Homo sapiens: one gene and its partners. The protein of the gene in region 1 interacts with the protein of each later gene in a pairwise test. Each region holds a gene or a part of one and is shown in the gene's direction. Other genes may lie near its edges.

The links.
Region 2: the proteins of BANP (region 1) and LHX8 interact in binary tests that used the Homo sapiens proteins (3 or more experiments, as listed by UniProt).
Region 3: the proteins of BANP (region 1) and ZNF488 interact in binary tests that used the Homo sapiens proteins (3 or more experiments, as listed by UniProt).
Region 4: the proteins of BANP (region 1) and SETDB1 interact in binary tests that used the Homo sapiens proteins (3 or more experiments, as listed by UniProt).
Region 5: the proteins of BANP (region 1) and PRKAB2 interact in binary tests that used the Homo sapiens proteins (3 or more experiments, as listed by UniProt).
Region 6: the proteins of BANP (region 1) and FARS2 interact in binary tests that used the Homo sapiens proteins (3 or more experiments, as listed by UniProt).
Region 7: the proteins of BANP (region 1) and COL10A1 interact in binary tests that used the Homo sapiens proteins (3 or more experiments, as listed by UniProt).

Annotation. Positions count from the first base shown.
Region 1 is NC_000016.10:87,957,934-87,961,433, forward strand, and holds part of BANP (protein BANP), read left to right. Parts: intron 1-1,937; exon of another isoform or gene 1,938-2,060; intron 2,061-3,500. UniProt on the Homo sapiens protein: Controls V(D)J recombination during T-cell development by repressing T-cell receptor (TCR) beta enhancer function. Binds to scaffold/matrix attachment region beta (S/MARbeta), an ATC-rich DNA sequence located upstream of the TCR beta enhancer.
Region 2 is NC_000001.11:75,133,172-75,137,187, forward strand, and holds the start of LHX8 (LIM/homeobox protein Lhx8), read left to right. Parts: upstream 1-1,216; 5' UTR 1,217-1,783; intron 1,784-3,211; exon of another isoform or gene 3,212-3,431; coding exon of another isoform or gene 3,432-3,443; coding exon 3,444-3,518; intron 3,519-3,928; coding exon 3,929-4,016. UniProt on the Homo sapiens protein: Transcription factor involved in differentiation of certain neurons and mesenchymal cells.
Region 3 is NC_000010.11:47,367,294-47,370,793, reverse strand, and holds part of ZNF488 (zinc finger protein 488), read left to right. Parts: intron 1-1,856; 5' UTR 1,857-1,964; coding exon 1,965-2,987; 3' UTR 2,988-3,500. UniProt on the Homo sapiens protein: Transcriptional repressor. Plays a role in oligodendrocyte differentiation, together with OLIG2. Mediates Notch signaling-activated formation of oligodendrocyte precursors.
Region 4 is NC_000001.11:150,932,863-150,936,362, forward strand, and holds part of SETDB1 (histone-lysine N-methyltransferase SETDB1), read left to right. Parts: intron 1-3,500. UniProt on the Homo sapiens protein: Histone methyltransferase that specifically trimethylates 'Lys-9' of histone H3. H3 'Lys-9' trimethylation represents a specific tag for epigenetic transcriptional repression by recruiting HP1 (CBX1, CBX3 and/or CBX5) proteins to methylated histones.
Region 5 is NC_000001.11:147,162,471-147,165,970, reverse strand, and holds part of PRKAB2 (5'-AMP-activated protein kinase subunit beta-2), read left to right. Parts: intron 1-3,397; coding exon 3,398-3,500. UniProt on the Homo sapiens protein: Non-catalytic subunit of AMP-activated protein kinase (AMPK), an energy sensor protein kinase that plays a key role in regulating cellular energy metabolism.
Region 6 is NC_000006.12:5,264,513-5,268,012, forward strand, and holds part of FARS2 (phenylalanine--tRNA ligase, mitochondrial), read left to right. Parts: intron 1-477; exon of another isoform or gene 478-566; intron 567-2,929; exon of another isoform or gene 2,930-3,011; intron 3,012-3,500. UniProt on the Homo sapiens protein: Is responsible for the charging of tRNA(Phe) with phenylalanine in mitochondrial translation.
Region 7 is NC_000006.12:116,118,409-116,120,770, reverse strand, and holds the end of COL10A1 (collagen alpha-1(X) chain precursor), read left to right. Parts: coding exon 1-698; 3' UTR 699-1,862; downstream 1,863-2,362.

The DNA of each region.
Region 1 (3,500 bases):
GGTGGGTCCCTGAGCAGAGTGCTGCCGCTGCCAGTCTGCGTTTTCTGCCGAAATGCGTCCCTGAGATTGAGAAAGTTCACACCCTAAGTGTTTTTAGAAGGCTGGGTGCCCTGTTTCCCAGCCAACAGTTGTGACTGTCAGTGGGCAAACACAGTTTGCAATAATTGGCCTGTTGTCTTACAATTTCTGGCTCTCCTCTTTGTGGTGTAGGTCATGTTAGGTGGTGGTCCTTGGTCGTTTGTGCCACGTTCCCTCATGTTCTTGAACTCTGAGTCCCTAGAAACTGACATTGGTCTTATTTTGAGTGCATTATTTTTCAAACTTTGGGTCTGAACCCACATCAATTGAGTGGGCCATGGCCAGTGTTAAGAATACTGGATAAAATGGAGCATGCCTTGGATAAAAGGAGCATGGTTCGGAGTGGCTAACGGGTAGGTATCGACTCAGGAAACTTGCAGTGATGAGTGTATGAACTTACCATCGTAGGCCCCAGTCGAGAGCGTGGAAACCACTCTTCTGTGATGTGTGTCTACTAGCGGGTGGTTATGCACAGCATTTGACTGAATTTGGGTAACTCTGGATGTAGTGTATAAAGTACTTTTTAAAAGGCCATCCACTGGGCCAGGCATGGTGGCCCAAAGCTCCCAGCGCTTTGGGAAGCGGAAACTGGAGGATCACTCGAGCCCGGGAATTGGAGGCTGCAGGGCTGCAGTGAGCCATGATTGCACCACTGCACTCCAGCCTGGGCGGCAGAGTGAGACCCTGTCTCAAGAAAAAACAAGCAAAAACTATTCCCGTTAAGCCGCTTGCTTAGGGGTGACTGTGATTGAACATGTGGCTTCTCATCCAAGTTGATTTTAATCTCTATGGAGATCAGACTAATAACCTCACAGTAGAAAATCCACCAGTGAGCTCAGCGGCACAAACTCACAGCCCAGCAGTGTTTGCAGAGGGGAAGGCCCAGAATGCGTGGAGGCTTCGGGATCCATCCTTTGCAGACATAGAGAATTCTCATGGGGGAGGGAGGACCTTGCGGCGCCTTGGCAGTGAGGGGAGCAACCTCAGCATGATGTTGGCACGTACACTGGGGACTGGGTGGTGACACCGTGCATGCCCACAGGGGTGGAGATCTTTGTGGAGTTCACTGATGGATCCCAGAGGCCCAGGACGGGATGGCACGCTTTTCTGTGAGGGTCAGAGTGTAAGTGTTTCTGGCCTTGTGGGGCGTGGGATGTCTCGTGCCACTGTGAAGCCGCTCGACTCTGCTGTTGGGCTGAGAAGCAGGCACCTTGTTTGTGGACGCTGACATTTGAGTTTTATGTAATTTTCTCATCATGAAATATTGTTCTTTTGTTATTTTTCTGTTTTAAAATGTAAAACCCATTCCTGGCTCACAGGCTGCATAGAAGCAGGTGGAGAGCTGGGCTGGGTTGTGGGCCCTCACGTGCCACCCCCTGACCTAGAGTGTGTTTGCCCTGGGAAGGAATAAGACGAGGTTGTGTAGAGAGGCAGTGGCTGGATGGGGAGAGGCCTGGGCCCTGCACAGAGGAGCTGAGGTGTGAGGCTGCTTGCGAGGGAGGCGGCTGACCAGGCTTGGTACTAGCAGGCTCTCCGGGGAGGAGGCCCCCTGGAGGAACAGCGCTGGCGTCAGCCACAGAAGGGCTTAGCGGCCATGGTCTTCCTGCTGCAGCCCGTGTGGTTTTGGGAGGGACACATGGAGCATTGGAGGACAAAGAGACGGCCAGATCGGAGTGTGTGTGGCAGAGGGGCGATGCCACCCTTCGGAGCGATGGGTGCCAGGGTACTCGGTGAGAGCCCAGGTCCCGGGTGAGGGGGTGGGCTGAGGGGGAGTCAGAGAGGGAGGAGCCTCGGGATGCGGAAGGGCGAGAGCAGGGCGATGAGGGTGGGGCCGCAGGGAGGTGGCCGGGACTCCTGGTAGTATTCTTGGGGAGAAAGATAACAGGGAAGTGAGGAGGGTTCAGCTGTGGAAGTGCTGGGATGGCTGATCCGAGTGACCATGGCCTAGACGGGGTTTAAACCCTGGACTGAAGAAAGTGCCGGTGAGAGGTCAAGGCAGGAGATGGAGACCTGGGGGTGACAGGTGTCCCCGGCACCTCCTACCCCCACCCTGGGAGACAGTCCCAAGGGGCACCTTCACTGGGGGCTGGCCCTCATGCACACCAGCCAAACCTCCTGCCCACCTTCTGGGGGCTTCTGGAGCAGAGCAGAGGCCCCGCGGACCGTGAGGATGGCCACAGGGAGGGGAGATGCGAAACACTGGCCGTGGCAGGTGCCCACGCAGTCAGGAGCTTGCTTGTGGGGCTCTTGTCTGACACCTGGGAGATGAATTTCAGTCTGATGGTGGATCTGGACCCAGATGGCTTGCTTGGGATTCAGCAGCTCTTGGGAAGAGCCACACTTGAGGATGGGCTTGGGTGAGGGTTTGGAACGTGCTTAAAGAGGTTGGCAGGCAAGGATTTGGTGGTAGCAGGTGGGGCACATCGTGTATTGGCAGGGTTTTGTTATTTTTATCCTAAAGACATACTTATTTGCAAACCTTCTATTTTGGAACATTTTGAGATGTATACATATGTGGCAGAGATAGCATAGGGAGTGCCCTTGTGCCTGGTACCCAGTTTCTCCCGTTGCTAACAAGACGCATGACAGCAGTTCATGGCACAGTGTTGGGTGTGCCCCGGCCAACTCAGCAGATGAGCTGTTTCACAAAATCAGTGATTCTGCTCTGATAAAATGGCAAGTCCACGGAAAGCACTTTCATTGTATTTTGAAGTTGGGTGGTTGTTGAGGGATTATTTGAGTTGTAGTTGAACTAGCTGCTCTTTTCATGGAACACTATAAAAAAATAATTTACAGATTACTGACATCTCTTACTAAATGAGTGAAGTTAGCCTCTCACCTCAAAGAAGTCAGCTAACAGTGTTTGTTGCCAGTGATAAAGTTTGAGCTGTCAAGTGAAGTTGGAGTTTTGGAAAGTTTGTCTTTGCCACCGTGAGCCCGAGAGCTCCCAATAAATCAGATGCCAGTGCTAATGCTGATGAACCGTATGCTTTTGATATTATAGACTGAACAACATTTGCAAGAGCTGCCTAACTCGGTGAAGCAACATTTTCCAGATGGTCGATGCGGGATCACGCCTGGGTAAAAGATCCATTTAGAGTACAAGTCAAGCCAATGGATCTTAAAGCCATAAAGTGCAGAAGCTCATGGATACAGTTCACATTCCATATTGCAAACAGCCTTTAAGGAAAAATAAAACACACTTGTTGCGTGTTGGTGTGGTGTCAAAGAGGAATCTCCATAATTATCTGAAGAGCCTATTAAGATACTTTTCCCTTGTCTAACTGCATCTCCTTGTAAGGCTGCATTTTATTTTATTTTTTCGTACTTTTTGTAGAGACAGGGTTTTGCTGTGTTGCCCGGGTTGGTCTCGAACTCCTGGACTCACAGAATCTGCACCCCCCCGGGCCTCCCAAAGTGCT
Region 2 (4,016 bases), on another chromosome or scaffold:
TGCGCAGCTGCGCGAAAAGAAAAACAATGGCGATAGGAAAATGCTCTGAAGACTCTAGTGTTTATGGGAGAAAAATGCAATGGAGGAAAAACTAAATTTGTAGTGGTAACTCGGTCCCAGACTCTTACACAGGCTCACTTCATCACAGGAAAGGCTATCTATCTCCTCCGCTAGCCGGCTGCTGACCGAGCTGGGGTCTGGGCAAGATCATTTCGCTCTTTTTCTTCTATACAAATAAGGCAAGGAGATAAGATATGTGTGTGTGCGTGTGTGTGTTTTACATATATATTTCCATCTAATTAAAGCAAAATCCTATGATTCTGTTAAAGGCCTTTAAGAAATAGACTCCTAGATCTTCTTAGTTTCAGAAGTTTAGCTTTTTAAATGGAAACAAAAATCATTTAAAAATAATCTTTTAACCAAATTTGTCTTTATACACTAAATAATGAAATAAAGTTTATACCACAAAGAGTCTGTTTAAACAAACACACCTTCCAATCTTAATCAAAATTAAGGTACCCTGAATACCTCCCTCCGCCGCTTCCCCGCCCCGCAGTCAGAACTTGAGGCAGAAGACAAGGCTGCTCGGGCTTACATTTTGTCTAGGAGATGAAAGAGCAATACTCATTAGCAACATACTTTTGTCTTTCTTGTAGCCTTGATTTCAAATCTAGTCGCAAATCATAAGCTTTTGTGTTGCTCAGATGTTCCTTCTTTATCTTAATGAGAAAACTTTTCGGAAAGGGAGCGCGAACTGCTAGATAAGTCAGCTCCCAGGCTGCCAGGAGCGGTGGCATTCCTCGGCTACACCGGACAGCTGCGAGTTTCAAGAGAATGACTAAAACTTTCAAGTCACCCAGACCTCCACTTCCCCTTCTGCTTGCTGCAGAAAGAGATGTAACCTGAATCTTTGTTTAGGTTTGGGTTGGGGAGCGAGAATTTAAAAGTTATGGCAAATGCAGACAGCAGATTTTTTAAAGTCAAGTTAACAGGACATCCCCCAATTTTTTTTTCTTTAGTACTAAACCTGAAGTCAGTTGGCGTGTTCTGATAAAGATTTTAACATGTAGAGAAGGCGGGTTTTCCTGAAAGAGGCGAAGCAATTTCTCCAGGAAAGACTTTCCCCCACACGCCCCCTTCCTTTATATTAGGTTCCACCCTCTGGAAAACAAAACTTTTTTTTTTTTCTTTTCCTGGAGGGACTCAGGAAAAGCTCAGTGCTCACTTCACTCAGAGCTCAGTGAAGCTGGGAAAGGAATTTTAAGAACGGTTCATCAGAAAGTGGTCAGGCCACAGCGGCCTCTTTGGACGAAGACACACTTGTAGCATTATCCTTCTCGGCATCAGCTTTTATTAGTGGATCGGGGCGGGGGAGGGGGGAGATCGGCAGACACGGACAGCCTCTGACCCTCTGGAGTTGGTATGTGATAAGCAGCCCTAGCAGTGCCATGTATTGGAAGAACGATCAGATGTTTGTGTGTAAACTAGTAGCAAAGGACGTGCCGGAGCTGGCAGTTCCCCCTGAGAAGGTGAGCGAGCCGACGCCTGGCCAGACCAGCTGAATCGCAGTGTCCTTGAAACTCGAGTTGTTTGGGCTCCTAAACAAGGTTCAGAAACTACCTGTAACGGCCTCATCTTCAGACCTGGCAATTTTTTTTTTTTATTACGTAGTAGCGTTAGTCAGTAATCATTGCACTCCCTCCCCAAAAGCTCACTTAACCTGAGACATGGAGACTGTAATTTGGGAGATGAAGCCTCGAGCCTAAGGCGCTCTCAGGTCCATGTGAGTCGTGCTTTTGTTCTATTTGCTGTGGTGATCGTGGCGGTCCGGGAGAGTGGGTCGGGAGGACTGGGCGGCTGTCGGGTGGAACCGGAGACCTGGCTCGTTTCGTTCGGCTGCCCGCGGACACTTGCCTGCCCTGAGGCACACCTCCCTCTGCGGGGCTCCAGAAAGGCCTCCGGGATCCCTGGGCTTGCCGGGAGAGCCATTTTACCTAAAATGCCAAAAGAAAACCGCAGGGCACAAAACGAGTCACGCGGTTTGTCTGAGTAGACTGGGGAAGCTGACAAGCTCTCACCTCACTCGGGAGGCAGGACCTGTGGGTATTTGGTGTTTTAAGTTTGAAATCATCTGCAGCCTGTCTGAGGGCCTCAGCAGGACGCGCGCGGGGCGCCCCTGACTATTTCTTTGCTCCGAAGCCGGTTGGGGACACCAGGCGAAAGCGGAGCTGTTCTGTTTAAACGCCCTTTGTGTGTGAGGACGCGGCCTCAGTGCAGCTACGCTGGGTCCCGCGTAGGGAGCGCACCCCAGAAAGGGAGGGTCTCGGCCGACGGTCCGGGAGGCCCCCAGGTTGGTATCTTGCCTGGTGCTTCCAGAGGGAGGGAGAAGGGGAGGCGAACAGTCAGAAATGCAGAAGTGCGAGCCGCTCGAGTTCGGGGTACCCACCCGCCCCCGAGCTAGAGTTTTTGGAAACGAAAGCGGTCTAAGCCCAGGGACGCTGCGTTTTCGTTTAAGAACAAAACTCCAGCAAATACTTGGAAACACTTGAGTAACGCGCGTTGTTTCTTTAAAACATTTTGTCAGAGGTTGGGTGAGTTCTTTTAATGGCACAAATTAAATTCAGCTGGATATTTTCCATTATTCTACCCGCTTTTTGCGCTGGTTAAAAATAATCCTTTAGTAGCTCAAATGTTGACTTACTGAGCAATAAGTGGCAATTTACACCTTAAAGAAACGAGTGTAAATCACTCGCCACTCTAATTGCTGTAAGTTTACGAAAGAGCTGCTGGCTCGGTTTAATCTGAAGCATTTTCATTCAAATTGTCATCGGAACAAACACCAGGCTTCTTAAATCCCGCTGTAATTAGCTTTCAAGTATCCTATTAAACCTCTTCACCTTTCGGGCTATCCTATTCAAAAAGCCCCCTTTTTAAAATATATATGTGTCTTGCTCTTTTAATTGAGGTTATTAAAGAAATCTAGTTTCTTCTCCCACCCCCTCCTCAATCCTCTTTTCTTCTCTCGCACTCCACCTCCCACTGCCCCGCACCCCCTTTAGCCCGGTGTTCCCCGCTCCGCTATGATTGACGTCTGGAAAGAAAGAGCTTTGTGAGGGGATGATTGTTATTAACTTGTTATCCCCGGCGGGGGGGCGGGGAACCGACGTGCCCGGGTGAGCGCCGGAGACCCGGAGCCCGGGGAGCGCGGGACGAGCTACCAGCGCTCGGGTGGCGGCCGCCAGCGGCCAGCGAAGGAGGCTGCGCGCCAGCCCGCCCGCGGCGCCCGGGCTCAGGCGCCGTGACGGCTGCACGCGCTGCCCCGCACTCTGAGGGCCTTCATTAGCTCGCTCCCCGCGCCGAGGCTGGGGCGGGCAGCACGCTCGGAACTTCTGATCTGTTTCTCCATACTTTCTCCCCCTCCTACTCCGCAGTGTCAGGGGCTCATGTCAGAGGAGTGCGGGCGGACTACAGCCCTGGCGGCCGGGAGGACTCGCAAAGGCGCCGGGGAAGAGGGACTGGTGAGTGCGGAGGGGCTCGCGTGCTGGCAAGACTGGCCGTGGGGAGGCGGCGCAGGACGAAGGGCCGCTGTCCCCGCGCTCCTTCCAGGGCCCAGCTGGCCCCTCCTGCAGCAGACAGAGGACGGGGCGGAGAGGGTCTGGGTGGGGTGGGAAGCTTAGCTGGCCCGCGAGGAGGGCAGGGCCGCAAGACTTCTGGGGTCCGAATAGGTCAGGGGTCGGCAGCCCCAGCGGGTGCGTAGCCAGAGCTTGGACTCGGGGAAGAGGGCGAGAATCGTGACCTCAAGAAGCTGGGGGTGGGGTGGGGTGGCCAGGGGGAAGGGAGGGGAGGCGGTGGGGGCGCCCTTGTGGGTAGGTGGGATGCGAAGGGGAGGAGGGGTCTAGAACCGCCTGCGCCTCGCGGTTTCCTGCAGGTGAGCCCCGAGGGAGCGGGGGACGAGGACTCGTGCTCCTCCTCGGCCCCGCTGTCCCCGTCGTCCTCGCCCCGGTCCATGGCCTCGG
Region 3 (3,500 bases), on another chromosome or scaffold:
CAAATCTATAATCTTTTTGTCCTTTTGCCTCCTCAGCATTCGTTCATAAGCATAGCGAGCATCACTGTCCGAGGCTGCACAGTGCTTCGTCTTGCGTATGCATCCTGCTTTGTTCACCATGTCTCTGGAGTTACGCATTTACTTGCTTGTTGCTTTCACCACTATAAACCATGCCTCATTTCCCTCTCCTGTTAGGCAGATCTGACCCTTCAGCCTGCCTCTTCCAGCCATGGTCAGACTGTTGTTAGTCCAGCGCCTGAGGGAGAGTACTTTCAGAGTTCCAGGCCCTTGTGTGACCTCCACCCTTAAGGTGACTCTTGGCACCCACAGGCCAATCAGCTGTATTCTTAGAGAGCTCTCAGAATACAGGCTGGTGGGCTATTTCCCTAAGGAAAAGCTGGGTGGGTTCTCACTGGGGTTGGAACCAAGGGGAGATGAGGAAATGGGAATAGGTTGGACGCCCTTGGTGGAGCTTCATAGTTTGATTTTACATCAGAGTTGGAAAGCAAAGCATACCCTTCTGCTACAGCTAGTGGTTTCCCCACCTGCGCCTGAGCTATGGACTGGGCAGGGGCCAAGTGCCCAGCAAGGAGCACAGGGAAGGAGCAGGAGGTGGAGAAGCTCAGAGGCAGGCTGCAGTAGGCTCCTCGCCCTTCTCACCATGCGGATGTCTCCTCCCTTGGCCCTATGGGAATATGGAGGGCTCACATTCTCCTCTCTGTGCAGGAGCAGGTCTCCACACTCTTTGGGAGGAGGAAGTTGACTTCTTTCTAACAGTTGCTGTCCTGTCATTCATTCATTCATTCATTCATTCAGCAAAGGCTTCCTGAGCTCCTGTCCTGTTGCAGGCTTGATTAAGTACTACAGATGTGAAGGTGAATTGACATATTTGGGTTCTTAGAGTTTGCCTTCTAGCAGACCACAAACAAGTAAATATAATGTTGCACGTGGTGCATGCAGGCCTTTGGTGCCCAGGACAGTGAGGGCATGGAGGAGGGAGTGTTGTCTGTGTCTGAGAGCACTGGGCAAGCCTCAAGGGGAGACTGTGCCTGAGGTGCATTTTGGAATGAGTTCACAGGTACGATGGGAATGAAGCTGCCCACATGTACTTGGGAGTTGGGGGAAGAGTGGGGACACTTGACTCTCACAAGAAGCATGGCTCTGAGAAAATCAGAGACCGCGCAGAAGCTGACAGGGCATGTGATGTGGACAAAGGGGCCACCAGGCTGGGAGGCAGGTCTGGTAGACCGAGGAGCAATGGGTTGAAATTAGGGTCGGGACAGAGAGGGCTGCATGAGGAGCAAAGACCATGAAGTCCATGGTCCTCCAACACTGCGACCCTCATGCTGCGGCCTCCCTGTGCCCTCAGCACTCAGCCAGGGCCAGAGGTAGCTCGAGCATGGAGCAGGGGCTGAGGGTGCATGGCTTCCTCATGATGGAGTCTACTTGTTGACAGATGACCCAGAAACTTCTGAAGGGCCCCCAAGGCCCTAATGCAGCCCCCAGAGCAGGCTCTTTCCCTTCCCCTGCAGACTCTCCATTTCATGCCTGGTTAATCCCCAGGAACCACTTTTGACAGGGGAATCCTACGTTTCTCTCTACTGAGCTGTAGAGGCTGCTGCCCATGGGCATTTTCAGCAGAGACCTCAGTCCCTACTCTGCCTCAGGGAGGTGGGCCCTGGAGGATGGTGCCATCCATGCTCCTTGTCTCCTGAGAGGTGGTGCAGTCAGCACACCCATCCCACAGACAGCGGAGGAGGCCTGAGCATCAGGGTCCTGTCTGATGCCAGCTCATGATGCACTGTGCCTGAGTGATGAATGCCCATCTCACTGCCTGTCGCTTCCTCTCTCTGCAGGGCCCTGTGGCCGAGTGTGTCCAGCCCAGTGTCATGGGGAGCTTCCATATCTCATGGCTCCTTGCTGGGCCAAGCCCTCCAGAACCCCAAACCCCCAAAGACTGATGAATGCCAGAGTGGCCACCTTGCTTATCTGTGGCCCCGGCCCTGGTGATCACCATGGCAGCTGGGAAGGGAGCCCCGTTGAGCCCATCGGCTGAAAACAGATGGCGACTTAGCGAACCTGAGCTGGGCCGGGGCTGCAAGCCAGTGCTGCTCGAGAAGACGAACCGCCTGGGCCCTGAGGCTGCTGTGGGCAGGGCGGGCCGGGATGTGGGCAGTGCGGAGCTGGCACTGTTGGTAGCCCCAGGCAAGCCCCGACCTGGCAAGCCGCTGCCCCCGAAGACACGTGGAGAGCAGAGGCAGAGCGCCTTCACGGAGCTGCCGAGGATGAAGGACCGGCAGGTGGATGCTCAGGCCCAGGAGAGGGAGCACGATGACCCCACAGGCCAACCTGGTGCCCCACAGCTGACCCAGAACATCCCCAGAGGCCCAGCTGGCAGCAAAGTCTTCTCTGTGTGGCCCAGCGGAGCACGAAGTGAGCAAAGAAGCGCCTTTAGCAAACCAACCAAGCGACCAGCAGAGAGGCCTGAGCTAACCTCAGTCTTCCCTGCAGGGGAATCTGCAGATGCCCTGGGGGAGCTGTCTGGACTCCTCAACACTACAGACCTCGCTTGTTGGGGTCGACTTTCAACTCCCAAGCTTTTGGTTGGTGATTTGTGGAACTTGCAAGCATTGCCACAGAATGCTCCACTCTGTAGCACTTTTCTGGGTGCCCCTACACTGTGGCTGGAGCATACCCAGGCCCAGGTGCCCCCACCCTCATCATCCTCCACCACTTCGTGGGCCCTCCTGCCACCCACCCTCACCTCCCTGGGCTTGTCCACCCAGAACTGGTGTGCAAAGTGCAACCTGTCCTTTCGCCTAACGTCCGACCTGGTCTTTCACATGCGATCCCACCACAAAAAGGAGCATGCGGGGCCTGACCCACATTCTCAGAAGCGGAGAGAAGAGGCCCTTGCCTGCCCTGTGTGCCAGGAGCACTTCCGGGAGCGCCACCACCTCTCCCGGCACATGACTTCTCACAGCTAGCAGGTGACCGCAGAATGACCTGCTGGGTGCAGCAGCCAGCCTTTGGCAGAGGGGGGCTCCCTGGGCCTGCGTTGAGGGGGCTGTCATGGTCCTTTGCAGAGCTGCTGCTTTTGGCATTCATAGATAAACAGCTCAGGCATAATTTGAAAAAGCCACACCTGCATGATGTGTTTTGAAGGAAATGAAGTCCTGAAATAAAGTGATGGGCTTTGCAAATCCAGGGTAGAGGCCCTAACAGGCACAGAGAGCAGGGGCAACTCCTGGCACACATCATGGGCTTTGGAGGCACACAAGCCTGGATTCGAATCTGGGCTCTTTCACATACTAGCTGTGACCCTGGACAAAGAGCTTTAACCTGCTGAGTCCCCATTTTCTCATCTGTGAAATGGAGATGATAACACTGTGTCTTAGGTTGGCATTCAGGTCACATGAAAGGTGTGTGGAAAGTGGCCAGCATTCTGCCTGCAGACCCTGAGCACTGAGTCAACAAGGTTTGTGATGATGTCTGTACTA
Region 4 (3,500 bases), on another chromosome or scaffold:
CTCAGGATATCATACTTTTTTTATGTTGTGTTTTCAGCTTCATTAAACTTGGCATCATTTTTAATTTTCCTTGTGGTTGTTTGATTTCTAAATATTTGGGGTTTTTTTGATATCTTTCTGTTGTTAATTTTTAATTAATTTTATTGTGTTCAGAGAATATACTTTGTATAATTTTAGTCTTTTTGAATGAATGAATGAATGAATGAATTGATTGATTGACAAGGTCTCACTCTGTTCCCCAGGCTGGAGTGTGATAGCATGATCATAGTTCACTGCAGCCTCAACCTCCTGGGCTCAAGTGATCCTCCCACGTCAGCCTCCTGAGTAGCTGGAACTAAAAGTACATGCCGCCACGCCCAGCTAACTTTTTTTTTTGTAGTAGAGATAAGGTCTCACTATGTTGCCCAGGCTGGTCTCGAACTCCTGAGCTCAGGCAATCCTCCTGCCTTGGCCTCCCAAGGTGCTGGGATTATAGGCCTTAGCTACCATGCCTGGCCTATTTTGTCTTTTTTTTTTTTTTTTTGAGACAGTCTTGCTCCATTGCCCTGGCTGAAGTGCAGTGGCATGATCTCACTGCAACTTCTGCTCACTGCAACCTTTGCCTCCTGGGTTCAAGCAATTCTCCTGTCTCAGCTTCCTGAGTAGCTGGGACCACAGGCACGCGCCATCACACCCAGCTAATTTTTGTACTTTTAGTAGAGACAGGATTTCTCTGTGTTGGCCAGTCTTGTCTTAAACTTCTGACCTTAGGTGATCTGTCCACCTAAGCCTCTCAAAGTGCTAGAATTACAGGCGTGAGCCACTGTGCCTAGCCCTATTTCTTCTTTGTTGCCTTCTTAAAGTCAAACAAACATTTCAGAAAACCACTGTCATTCTTCTGATTTTTCTTTTTCTTTTTCTTTTTCTTTTTCTTTTTCTTTTTTTTTTTTTTTTTTTTGAGATGGAGTTTTCGCTCTTGTTGTCTAGGCTGGAGTGCAATGGCAGGATCTCTGCTCACTGCAACCTCCGCCTCTTGGGTTCAAGCGATTCTCCTGCCTCAGCCTCCTAAGTAGCTGGGATTACAGGCATGCACCACCATGCCTGGCTAATTTTGTATTTTTAGTAGAGACAGGGTTTCTCCATGTTGGTCAGATTGATCTCAAGCTCCCAACCTCAGGTGATCCACCTGCTTCGGCTTCCCAAAGTGCTAGGATTACAGGAGTGAGCCACCACACCCGGCCCCTGATTTTTCTTTTTTTTAGCTTTCATAAAAGGGGTTGCATCTGTACCTAATCATAATCTATTACAAATTAATACTGACTTAATTCTGGTAAAAATACAGCCATTTTGGCTGGGCGCGGTGGCTGACGCCTGTAATCCCAGCACTTTGGGAGGCCGAGACGGGCAGATCACGAGGTCAGGAGATCGAAACCATCCCGGCTAACACGGTGAAACCCCGTCTCTACTAAAAATACAAAAAAATTAGCTGGGCGTAGTGGCGGGCACCTGTAGTCCCAGCTACTTGGGAGGCTGAGGCAGGAGAATGGCGTGAACCTGGGAGGCGGAGCTTGCAGTGAGCCAAGATCGCACCGCTGCACTCCAGCCTGGGCGACAGAGCGAGACTCCATCTCAAAAAATATATATATATACACAGCCACTTTGCACCAGCATACTTCTACTTTCACTCTCTTCCTGTGTGATACTATTGTCAAATATATTATAGCTACATGTTTAAAGCCAATAATCTAGTGTTATAATTACTGCTTTAAGCAGTCTCATGTTTAAAGAAGGTAAGGGAAGAAAAGAAAAATATGTATTTACCCAGATATTTATCACTTCTGTTGCTCTTCATTCCTTCCTGTGGATCTGAGTTATCATCCAGTGTCATGTTTTTCCAGCCAGACGGTTTCCTTTAATATTTCTTGCAGTACAGTTCTGCTGACAGTGGATTCCCTCAATCTTCGTTTACCCAGGATATAGAATTTTTTTTTTTTTTTGTGACAGAGCTTTATTCTTGTTGCCCAGGCTGGAGTGCAGTGGTGAGATCTCAGCTCACTGCATCCTCCACCTTCCAGGTTCAAGCAATTCTCCTGCCTCAGCCTCCCAAGTAGTTGGGACTACAGGTGTGCACCACCACGCCCGGCTAATTTTGTCTTTTTAGTAGAGACAGGGTTTCGTCATGTAGTTCAGGCTGGTCTCAAACTCCTGGCCTCAGGTGATCCACACGCCTTGGCCTCCCAAAGTACTGGGATTACAGGCGTGAGCCACTGTGCCCGGCCCTACCTGGGATATAGAATTCTTGATTGACAGAGTTTTCTTTCAGTACTTCAAATACGCCATCCCTGTGCCCTCTGGCCTCTATTATTTTTGATGGAAAGTCAGAGGAAATTATTTTTGTATCATGTATATGAGTCAGTTTTGTCTTGCTGGTTTTAAGGTTTTCTTTTTGTCTTCTGGTGTTAGTTTGACTGGGATGTATCCAAGTTCTTTCTTAATCCTACTTGAGGTCCATTTAACTTCTTGGGTATGTAGATTCAAGTTTTTCACCAAATTTGGAAGTATTTCATCTGTTATTTCTTCATGGTTTTTTTTTTCTGTTCCCTTTTGTCTCTCCCTGCTTTCTGGGATTTCCATTACATATATGGTGGAATGCTTGACATTCATCTTTTCACAAGTCTCTGAAGCTTTGTTCATTTTTCTTCAATTTTCTCTCTGTGCTTTGGATTGGATAATTTCTCTATATGGGTATCTATATATTCTAGTTCATTGACTCCTGTTGTGACTCTGCCACTTAGCCCCTCTAATATGTATTTCATTTCAGTTTTTGCATTTTCAACTCTGGAATTTCTATTTGGTTCCTTATTTCATAGTTTCAGTTTCTCTTGAGATTCTCTTGTTGATTAAGTATTAGTATATTTTCATTTAACCTTTTAACTTAATTTCCTATCGTTCTTTGAGCATATTTATAAATCCAGTATCTGGGATCACTGAGAGTCAGTTTTATTGACAGGGTTTTTTGTCTTGAGTGTAGGTCACACTTTCATGTTTCTTTGCATGTCTCTTATCTTTTTGTTGAATATTGACTTTTAGATAATCTAGCAACTCTGAGTTTTAATTTATTTTCCTGAGAGTTCCATATCCTAGTTATTCTTTTCTTTTTTTTGAGACGGAGTCTCGCTCTGTCGCCCAGGCTGGAGTGCAATGGCGCAATCTCGGCTCACTGCAAGCTCCACTTCCCGGTTTCACACCATTCTCCTGCCTCAGCCTCCCGAGTAGCTGGGACTACAGGTGCCCGCCACCATGCCTGGCTAATTTTTTTCTATTTTTTTAGTAGAGACAGGGTTTCACCATGTTAGCCAGGATGGTCTCGATCTCCTGACCTCGTAATCTGCCCGTCTCGGCCTCCCAAAGTGCTGGGATTACAGGCGTGAGCCACCCTGTAGGCCTCTGTTCAGTTTTTTTATTTTAACTTTTAATTTTTTAGCTTGGCTTCCAAGTATTGACTTTTTTATTTCTATTTT
Region 5 (3,500 bases), on another chromosome or scaffold:
TAAAAATTAGCCGAGCGTAATGGCACATGCCTGTGGTCCCAACAATTTGGGAGGCTGAGGCGTGAGGATTGCTTGAGCCCAGGAGGTCGAGGCTGCTGTGAAGCATGTTTGAGCCTCCTCACTCCAGCCTGGGCAGCAGAGTGAGATACTGCCTCAAAAACAAGACAACCACCCCCCTGCCCCCTGACAATTCTGTTGTAGGTAATTGAAATTTTGTAAATTTTTGGTTAAAAAAAAAAAAGTCTATGGTAGCGGAAAATATCTTTACACTTTTATTTCCTCTAATATTATTTGAGCCAAGGCCTTCATCTCTGCTTACAATTGCTATAGTATCAGAGAATATTTTGCTAACCACACTTGTAGTTACCATTTTGTTACTTTACAATAAGAACTATCTAAAGAATTGTGCACAGTATTCCCAGTGAGCACACTTCTCTCCTGTGAGTTCAAAGCCTGCCTCTGCTACTAACTAGTTTTGCCATCATGAACAAATCTCTCAACCTTTTTCGTTCTGAGTTTCTTCACAGTAAAACCAGGGACTTAAACTTTCAGTGATTCTCAGCTGAGGAGGCACAATACCTTAAGTGGAACATATTTGAATTTCAGGGGAGAAGGGTGGCTTTGCTGTTTTTAAAAGAAATTATTGGCTGGGCACACTGGCTCAGGCCTGTAATCCCAGCACTTTGGGAGACCGAGGCGGGTGGATGACGAGGTCAGGAGATCAAGACCATCCTGGCTAACACGGTGAAACCTCATCTCTACTAAAAAATACGAAAAATTAGCTGGGTGTGGTGGCAGGCGCCTGTAGTCCCAGCTACTCGGGAGGCTGAGGCAGGAGAATGACGTGAACCCGGGAGGCGGAGCTTGCAGTGAGCTGAGATCTCGCCACTGCACTCCAGCCTGGGCGACAGAGCGAGACTATTATTAATAGTGTAATCATCTGTTGAGGAAACTTTTGAAAATGTTGTTTTCATCATATAAGCTCAGAAGGTTAAATTGGGCATTATTTTTGACTGGTGGGACAGTAATTTAAAAGGGTTTTAAAATGCTGAATTAGATTATGAGGATACTTGTGACTAATTTTTGCATTATATAATTCTGGCAAAGTAACCAATAAATAGACATGTATCATAATTATATAGAGAGAAGACTTGCATACTTTTGATATTTCCCTTTCTCCTAATTTCCCAATCTATTGAGGTAACGCTTATAATCCATTTTTTACTAGGAATCTACAGATAATGGATTTTAGTCTGCACTCATTTACTGTCTATCCATGTATGTAACTTTAGGCAAATAACCAATTTGTATTTATTTTTTTCTGGTGAAAAGGCAATAAAAACTATTCTGTGCACTTCCCAAGGGTATTTTGTGGATCATGTGACGAAATAACAAAGCATAATACTTTGTAAGGTTTCAAGTTCCATATGTTTTAAAGATATTATTTAATATCAGAGTATTACTTCTGCTTTTTTCTTTTGCCTTATATGTATTTTTTATTTTTAATTGACACATAACAATTGTACATATTTATGAGATACAATGTGATGTTTCAATACATTTTATATGTGTAATGATCGAGTCAGGGCAATTAGCATATTCATCTCAAACATTTGTCGTTTCTTCGTGGTGATAACATTCAAAATCCTTTCTTCTAGCTATTTTATTTTGTTACATTATTGTTACCTATATTCACTCTACTGTGCAACGGAACACTGGAACTTAGTTCTTACAATGAATTTGGTGGCTCACACCTGTAATCCTAGCACTTTGGGAGGCCGAAGTGGGAGGATCACTTGAGTCCAGGAGTTTGAGACCAGCCTGGGCAACATAGTGAGACCCTGTCTCTACAAAAAAAATCAAAAAATTAGCTGGGCATGGTAGCATGTGCCTTTAGTACCAACTACTCTGAAGGCTGAGGTGGGAGGATCACTTGAGCCCAGGAGGTCAAGGCTGTAGTGAGCCGTGATCAAGCCACTGCACTCCAGACTCGGTGACACAGAGCAAGACCCTCTCTCAAAAAAGAAACAATAACATTTAAATAAAATATATTATAATATATTTCTCTTCATTTTTGTATATTGTATTCTTGTCTGCATACTTTTTTTCATTTTTTTGAGATGTAATTTATACATCATAAAATTAACTCTTAAATTGTACAACTCAGTAATTTTTAGTATATTCAGAGTTATGTGATTATCACAACTATCTAATTCCAGAGCATTTTTATCACCCGCAGAATAAACCCTGTACCCATTAGCAGTCACATCCCATTCCCTCCTCCCCTCCGTCCCTGGCAACCACAAGTCTTGCTGTCTTAAGGATTTGCCTGTTCTGGACATTTCATATCAGTGGAATCCTACAATATGTGGTCTTTTGTGACTGGCGTCTTTCACTTAGCATAATGTTTTCAGGGTTCATCCATGTTCTAACCATGTATCAGTACTTCGCTCTTTTTTATGGCTGAATAAGAGCCCATTGTGTGGACATACTGTTTGTTTATCCATTCAGTAGTTGATAGACATCTTGATTGTTTCCACTTTTTGGCTATTATAAATAATGCTATTATGAACACTGGTGTACAAGTTTTTGTGTAGACATATGTTTTCATTTCTTTTGGGTATATACCCAGTGTATAATGCTGGGTCATGTGGTAACTTTATGTTTAACTATTTGAGGAACTGCCAAACTGTTTTCCAAAGTGGCTGGACTACTTTACATTCCCTCTAGCAGTGGGAATAGTGTGAGCGTTCCAATTTCTCCATTCCTTTGTTGACACTTATTACTGTCTGTCTGTTTGATTTTAGCTGTCCTAGTGAGTATGAAATGGTAGCTTATTGTGGTTTTGATTTGCATTTCCCTAATGACAGTTACATACATTTTGTCCTTATTGTTGCAATCATTGTTGTATTGGTAGTCTTAGGAGTTTATAACCTTGTTGTTTGGCTGGAAAAAAGAAAAAATCTAATCTTTTCCCATTGTTTGAAAGTTACAAGGCATCTTTACATCCATTATCTAATTTGATTTCCTTAAAAACATCATGAAATAGGGCAAAGATTATTTTTATTTTATAAAGAAACTGACCATTGTGGAGGGATTCTTCCAAGGTCCTACAGCTGATACATGTAGTAGCTCTTCCCTGAGCCTGGGTCTTTGAGTCTTTATATCTTTGTCTGTCTCCCAAATCATGTTGCTATGTTGAGGAGCTTCATGGTTTATGTCCAGGGGACTCAGATTTTTCCTCTGGTTACCTTACAGCTGTAGATCCCACAGGTCACAAGTTTGTGATCCAGGACTTCTACCATATTTAATGTTAGCTGCCATGTATTGATAGCTTTTTCCATGCATTCTTGCTAATTCTCCAACTCTTTCTCATATTTGTATAAATATCTTTCAGACCTTTCCAGCTCACCCCCAGGGCCTTATGGTCAAGAAATGTATGCGTTTCGATCTGAGGAAAGATTCAAATCCCCACCCATCCTTCCTCCTCATCTACTTCA
Region 6 (3,500 bases), on another chromosome or scaffold:
GACAGAGTTTCACTCTTGTTTCTCAGGCTGGAGTGCAATGGTGCAATCTCGTCCGGCTAATTTTTTGTATTTTTAGTAGAGATGGAGTTTCACCATGTTGTCCAGGCTTTTCTTGAACTCCTGACCTCAGGTGATCCAGCTGCCTTGGCCTCCCAAAGTGTGGGGATTACAGGCGTGAGCCACCGCGCCCGGCCCATAAGTACCATATATTATATAAGATGATATAGTCACAGTGATGAGAGCTTCCCCACCCCTAAGAAACTTGTAGGTGACTAGATAAGCGAAACAATAATTTATTTTATAGAGACAGGGTCTCTGTTTACTAAGCTGGAGTGCAGTAGTGCTATCATATCTCGTTGTAACTTCAAACTCCCGTGCTGAAGTGATTTTCCTGCCTCAGCCTCCTGAGTAGCTAGGCCTATAGGCTCATGCCACCATGCCTGGCAGATTTTTAAGTGTTTTTTTTTTTTTTTGTAGAGATGAGATTTCACTATGATGTCCAGGGTGGTCTCAAACTCCTCAGTGCCTCTCCTGTCTTGGCTTCCCAAAGAGCTCAGATTATAGCTGTGAGTCGTGGCACTTGGCCAATAATTTCTTTTTGACAGTTGCTGCGATATGAGTAATATTAGTAAACGCTAAAGGAATAGGGAAGAGGAATATTGAACCAGGAGTTTCACCTATGGGAAGGCTTTCCATCGTAGAAGGTGTTTCCAGAATGAGAAGTAAAAGCCAGATGAGGAATGTGGTTAAAGATTGCAGTGTATATCCAAGCATGGAGGAAGAAGGGTGCTTGATCTATTTAGAGAACTCTTAAGTGTTTTAGAATGGTAGGAGGTGGGAAGGGAGGGACCACTGAAGTGTTTAGCCCTGTACTAGCTTTATTTTAGTGATGTTTTCTCTCTGTCTGGAATAAATCATTTCTTCCCTTATGCATTGGCTGAGTTATATAAGTAGAACTTAACAGCTGAGCTGTTGAAATGGAGATTATTTATTCAGGTACTGATAACCTTTTGTTTCAAATCATGACTTTGAATCCTATATTCCAGAGGCACTGAAATGTTATTTATTTACCTGTGCATTCAAGAGATAGCTGGCAGCCTAGCAATTTAAGTTACTGTTGTTGTGGTAACTTGAGGGCGATATATAAATCAAACACTGATCCTGTTTTCCAGAAGTTTATACTTTAAATGCATTTGTATATGATTAAAATAAGGTATTAGGTTGGTGAAAGTAGCTGCAGTTTTGACCGTTACTTTTAAGGGTGAAAACAGCAATAACTTTTCTACCATCCTGTACAAAGGGCTGCTGAAGCGTTGTGGGGTCTCAGTGCAAGGAGAGGTCACTTCATCCCTGATGCTTGGGCCACACCTCAGACCAACAGCAGTGCTAAGGCCCAGGCTTCAGATAATTTTGTTTAATTTTTTTTTAAAATTCTCTCCATGATTGGGTAGAGCCAGGGCTGAGAAACATTGACCTGAAGGAATTAGGGGGCTTCATGGAGGAGGTAGTGTTTGTGTTGGGCTTGAGAGGATTTAAGTTTCTCCTGGGCCTTGAAAGGAATTGAAGGATTTAAATGTTTGAATGTGGTGGTAAGATGGCTACTGTAGGTGGAAGATGACTCACCCTTTACCTTGAAAGGATGAAGGAGAAACCCTGATTGAGGTCTAAGAAAAAACAATCATGACCTGCGGAAGGCTTTGGCCAGAGCTGTAGAGTGCATGAGGGTGAGAACGGGGAGATCCCGTGAAAAGGTAATACATCGGCTTTCATATGTTTTAGGCATGAGATGAGCTGAATCCTGATATGATTTGAGTTAGTCTTCCCATGACCTGATGGAAGAGCTGTTATCTCCATTTAAGAAAAGTGAAGCTGCCCAGGTGTGGTGGCTCACATCTGTAATCCCAGCACTGTGGGAGGCTGAGGCAGGAGGATCACTTGAGCTTGGGAGTTTGAGGCCAGCCTGGGTAACATAGCGAGACCCCATCTCAATAAAATAGAATAAAAAAAAGAAAAAAAAATGAAGCTGAGAGTTTATTTAGCCAGGGTCACACAGCTGGAAAGTAGCTAGTGTGGACCTTGGCCTGAGATGTGATCTGTCTAGCTATGATACAACACTGCTTCACAGATAAAGTACCAGCTTCAGGAATTGGAAGGTTATTGATTTTTCTTGGATAACATGGGTACATTTCAGTCATATTTGAATTTTAATTTAGTTGGATTCTCACTTATTTGTAAAGCTAACCGGTTTGTATTGGAAATATTATAAATATTCTGGGAATCTCAAATGTTGATTTTATACTAGCTTTTTAGTTATTTAAGATAAATTTACATTTTATTCTATTAACATCTCTTTGAAAAGACGTAGTGCTTTTTTAGGTTGTCTATTTATGTGTGTATGTGAGACATTTCCTCTTGGGGGATTCTCTGAGACTCACATTTCTGTAGAAGCTTTTTTCAGATATACTTATGAAAATCTGTTCTCTGTTTTGAGAAATCTTGAAAGCTATGATATGTTGCAACTAGACACTCTAGCTTCATTGATTGGAGGCTAAGGGTTCCCGTATTTGTGGGCAGTAACAACAAAATTGACAATTTATTTTGTGTAAAGTATTTCAAATGTCAGTTATTTCTAGAGGTTTTTTTTCTTAAAAAAAAAAAACTCATTAATTCTTTTCATTGTAAAGGAAAGAAACCATCTTTTCATGCTACAAACCCCGACCACCATGAGAATTCTTTTACAGTGTGATTTGTTGTAATCTGTTATAGATCACTTTCATTCTTTCTTTCTTGCTGCATATGAGGGACCAGTATTTTAGGAATAATGTTTTCATATTGTCTGGATATTTTAGGATGATTTGTTAATCAAACTAGCTACAGCTTATTGTAATGATAGCTATTATTTATTTAGAGTTTGTTTTCTCTCTTCTAGGAGCTTTGCCATGAAAAGAACAGTCCAGGCCAGGCGTGGTGGCTCACACCTGTAATCCCAGCACTTTGGGAGGCCCAGGCAGGTGAATCACGAGGTCAGGAGATGGAGACCATCCTGGCTAACACAGTGAAAACCCGTCTCTACTAAAAAAATACAAAAAAAATTAGCCGGATGTGGTGGTGGGTGCCTGTAGTCCCAGCTACTCGAGAGGCTGAGGCAGGAGAATGGCATGAAGTTGGGAGGTGGAGCTTGTAGTGAGCTGAGATCGCACCACTGCACTCCAGCTTGGGAGACACAGCGAGACTGTCTCAAAAAAAAAAAAAAAAAAATCGCCACACTGTCTTCCACAATGGTTGAACTAGTTTACACTCCCACCAACAGTGTAAAAGTATTCCTGTTTCTCCACATCCTCTCCAGCACCTTTTGTTTCCTGACTTTTTAATGATCGCCATTCTAACTGGTGTGAGATGGTATCTCATTGTGGTTTTGATTTGCATTTCTCTGATGGCCAGTGATGATGAGCATTTTTTCATGTGTTTTTTGGCTGCATAAATGTCTTCTTTTGAGAAGT
Region 7 (2,362 bases), on another chromosome or scaffold:
GTACTAGAGGCCCTATTGGGCCACCAGGCATTCCAGGATTCCCTGGGTCTAAAGGGGATCCAGGAAGTCCCGGTCCTCCTGGCCCAGCTGGCATAGCAACTAAGGGCCTCAATGGACCCACCGGGCCACCAGGGCCTCCAGGTCCAAGAGGCCACTCTGGAGAGCCTGGTCTTCCAGGGCCCCCTGGGCCTCCAGGCCCACCAGGTCAAGCAGTCATGCCTGAGGGTTTTATAAAGGCAGGCCAAAGGCCCAGTCTTTCTGGGACCCCTCTTGTTAGTGCCAACCAGGGGGTAACAGGAATGCCTGTGTCTGCTTTTACTGTTATTCTCTCCAAAGCTTACCCAGCAATAGGAACTCCCATACCATTTGATAAAATTTTGTATAACAGGCAACAGCATTATGACCCAAGGACTGGAATCTTTACTTGTCAGATACCAGGAATATACTATTTTTCATACCACGTGCATGTGAAAGGGACTCATGTTTGGGTAGGCCTGTATAAGAATGGCACCCCTGTAATGTACACCTATGATGAATACACCAAAGGCTACCTGGATCAGGCTTCAGGGAGTGCCATCATCGATCTCACAGAAAATGACCAGGTGTGGCTCCAGCTTCCCAATGCCGAGTCAAATGGCCTATACTCCTCTGAGTATGTCCACTCCTCTTTCTCAGGATTCCTAGTGGCTCCAATGTGAGTACACACAGAGCTAATCTAAATCTTGTGCTAGAAAAAGCATTCTCTAACTCTACCCCACCCTACAAAATGCATATGGAGGTAGGCTGAAAAGAATGTAATTTTTATTTTCTGAAATACAGATTTGAGCTATCAGACCAACAAACCTTCCCCCTGAAAAGTGAGCAGCAACGTAAAAACGTATGTGAAGCCTCTCTTGAATTTCTAGTTAGCAATCTTAAGGCTCTTTAAGGTTTTCTCCAATATTAAAAAATATCACCAAAGAAGTCCTGCTATGTTAAAAACAAACAACAAAAAACAAACAACAAAAAAAAAATTAAAAAAAAAAACAGAAATAGAGCTCTAAGTTATGTGAAATTTGATTTGAGAAACTCGGCATTTCCTTTTTAAAAAAGCCTGTTTCTAACTATGAATATGAGAACTTCTAGGAAACATCCAGGAGGTATCATATAACTTTGTAGAACTTAAATACTTGAATATTCAAATTTAAAAGACACTGTATCCCCTAAAATATTTCTGATGGTGCACTACTCTGAGGCCTGTATGGCCCCTTTCATCAATATCTATTCAAATATACAGGTGCATATATACTTGTTAAAGCTCTTATATAAAAAAGCCCCAAAATATTGAAGTTCATCTGAAATGCAAGGTGCTTTCATCAATGAACCTTTTCAAACTTTTCTATGATTGCAGAGAAGCTTTTTATATACCCAGCATAACTTGGAAACAGGTATCTGACCTATTCTTATTTAGTTAACACAAGTGTGATTAATTTGATTTCTTTAATTCCTTATTGAATCTTATGTGATATGATTTTCTGGATTTACAGAACATTAGCACATGTACCTTGTGCCTCCCATTCAAGTGAAGTTATAATTTACACTGAGGGTTTCAAAATTCGACTAGAAGTGGAGATATATTATTTATTTATGCACTGTACTGTATTTTTATATTGCTGTTTAAAACTTTTAAGCTGTGCCTCACTTATTAAAGCACAAAATGTTTTACCTACTCCTTATTTACGACGCAATAAAATAACATCAATAGATTTTTAGGCTGAATTAATTTGAAAGCAGCAATTTGCTGTTCTCAACCATTCTTTCAAGGCTTTTCATTGTTCAAAGTTAATAAAAAAGTAGGACAATAAAGTGATGGGTGGCTTTTACAGTTGTCATGGATATGTCCCTATATTGGTGATGCATCTTTATTCCCACAGACCCAACCACTCATTGTTGACTGTGAAGAGGTACCCACAAAACCACATGCAATCTGAGTCAGGGTCAAGGGCTGATGACTAGGGATAGAAAAATGACAAAATCACCCCAAAGTTGTAATTTTCTCCTGGGAGGGAAAGAAGCAGGTGACAGAGAAATATGCAGTTTGAACAAATATTCTGCAGTTACTATTTATTGTCTTGACATGTTTTTGGTTATAATATTTAAAATTGTTTTGATGGCTTGAATTACATTTTAAAAAGGCAAGCAATTTTTTTGTCAATCACAAGGCAACATTTTTTCCAAGCTGAAAAATACTACTCTTAAGAATCCATCATCCTATTAGTTTAATCAGGACAATGTGGCTCAAGTCACTGAGGTAACATACTATAAAGGCATCTATTTATTCCTTAGAAGCAATCTTGTGTAATCCAAGCAAAGCTGTGATTGG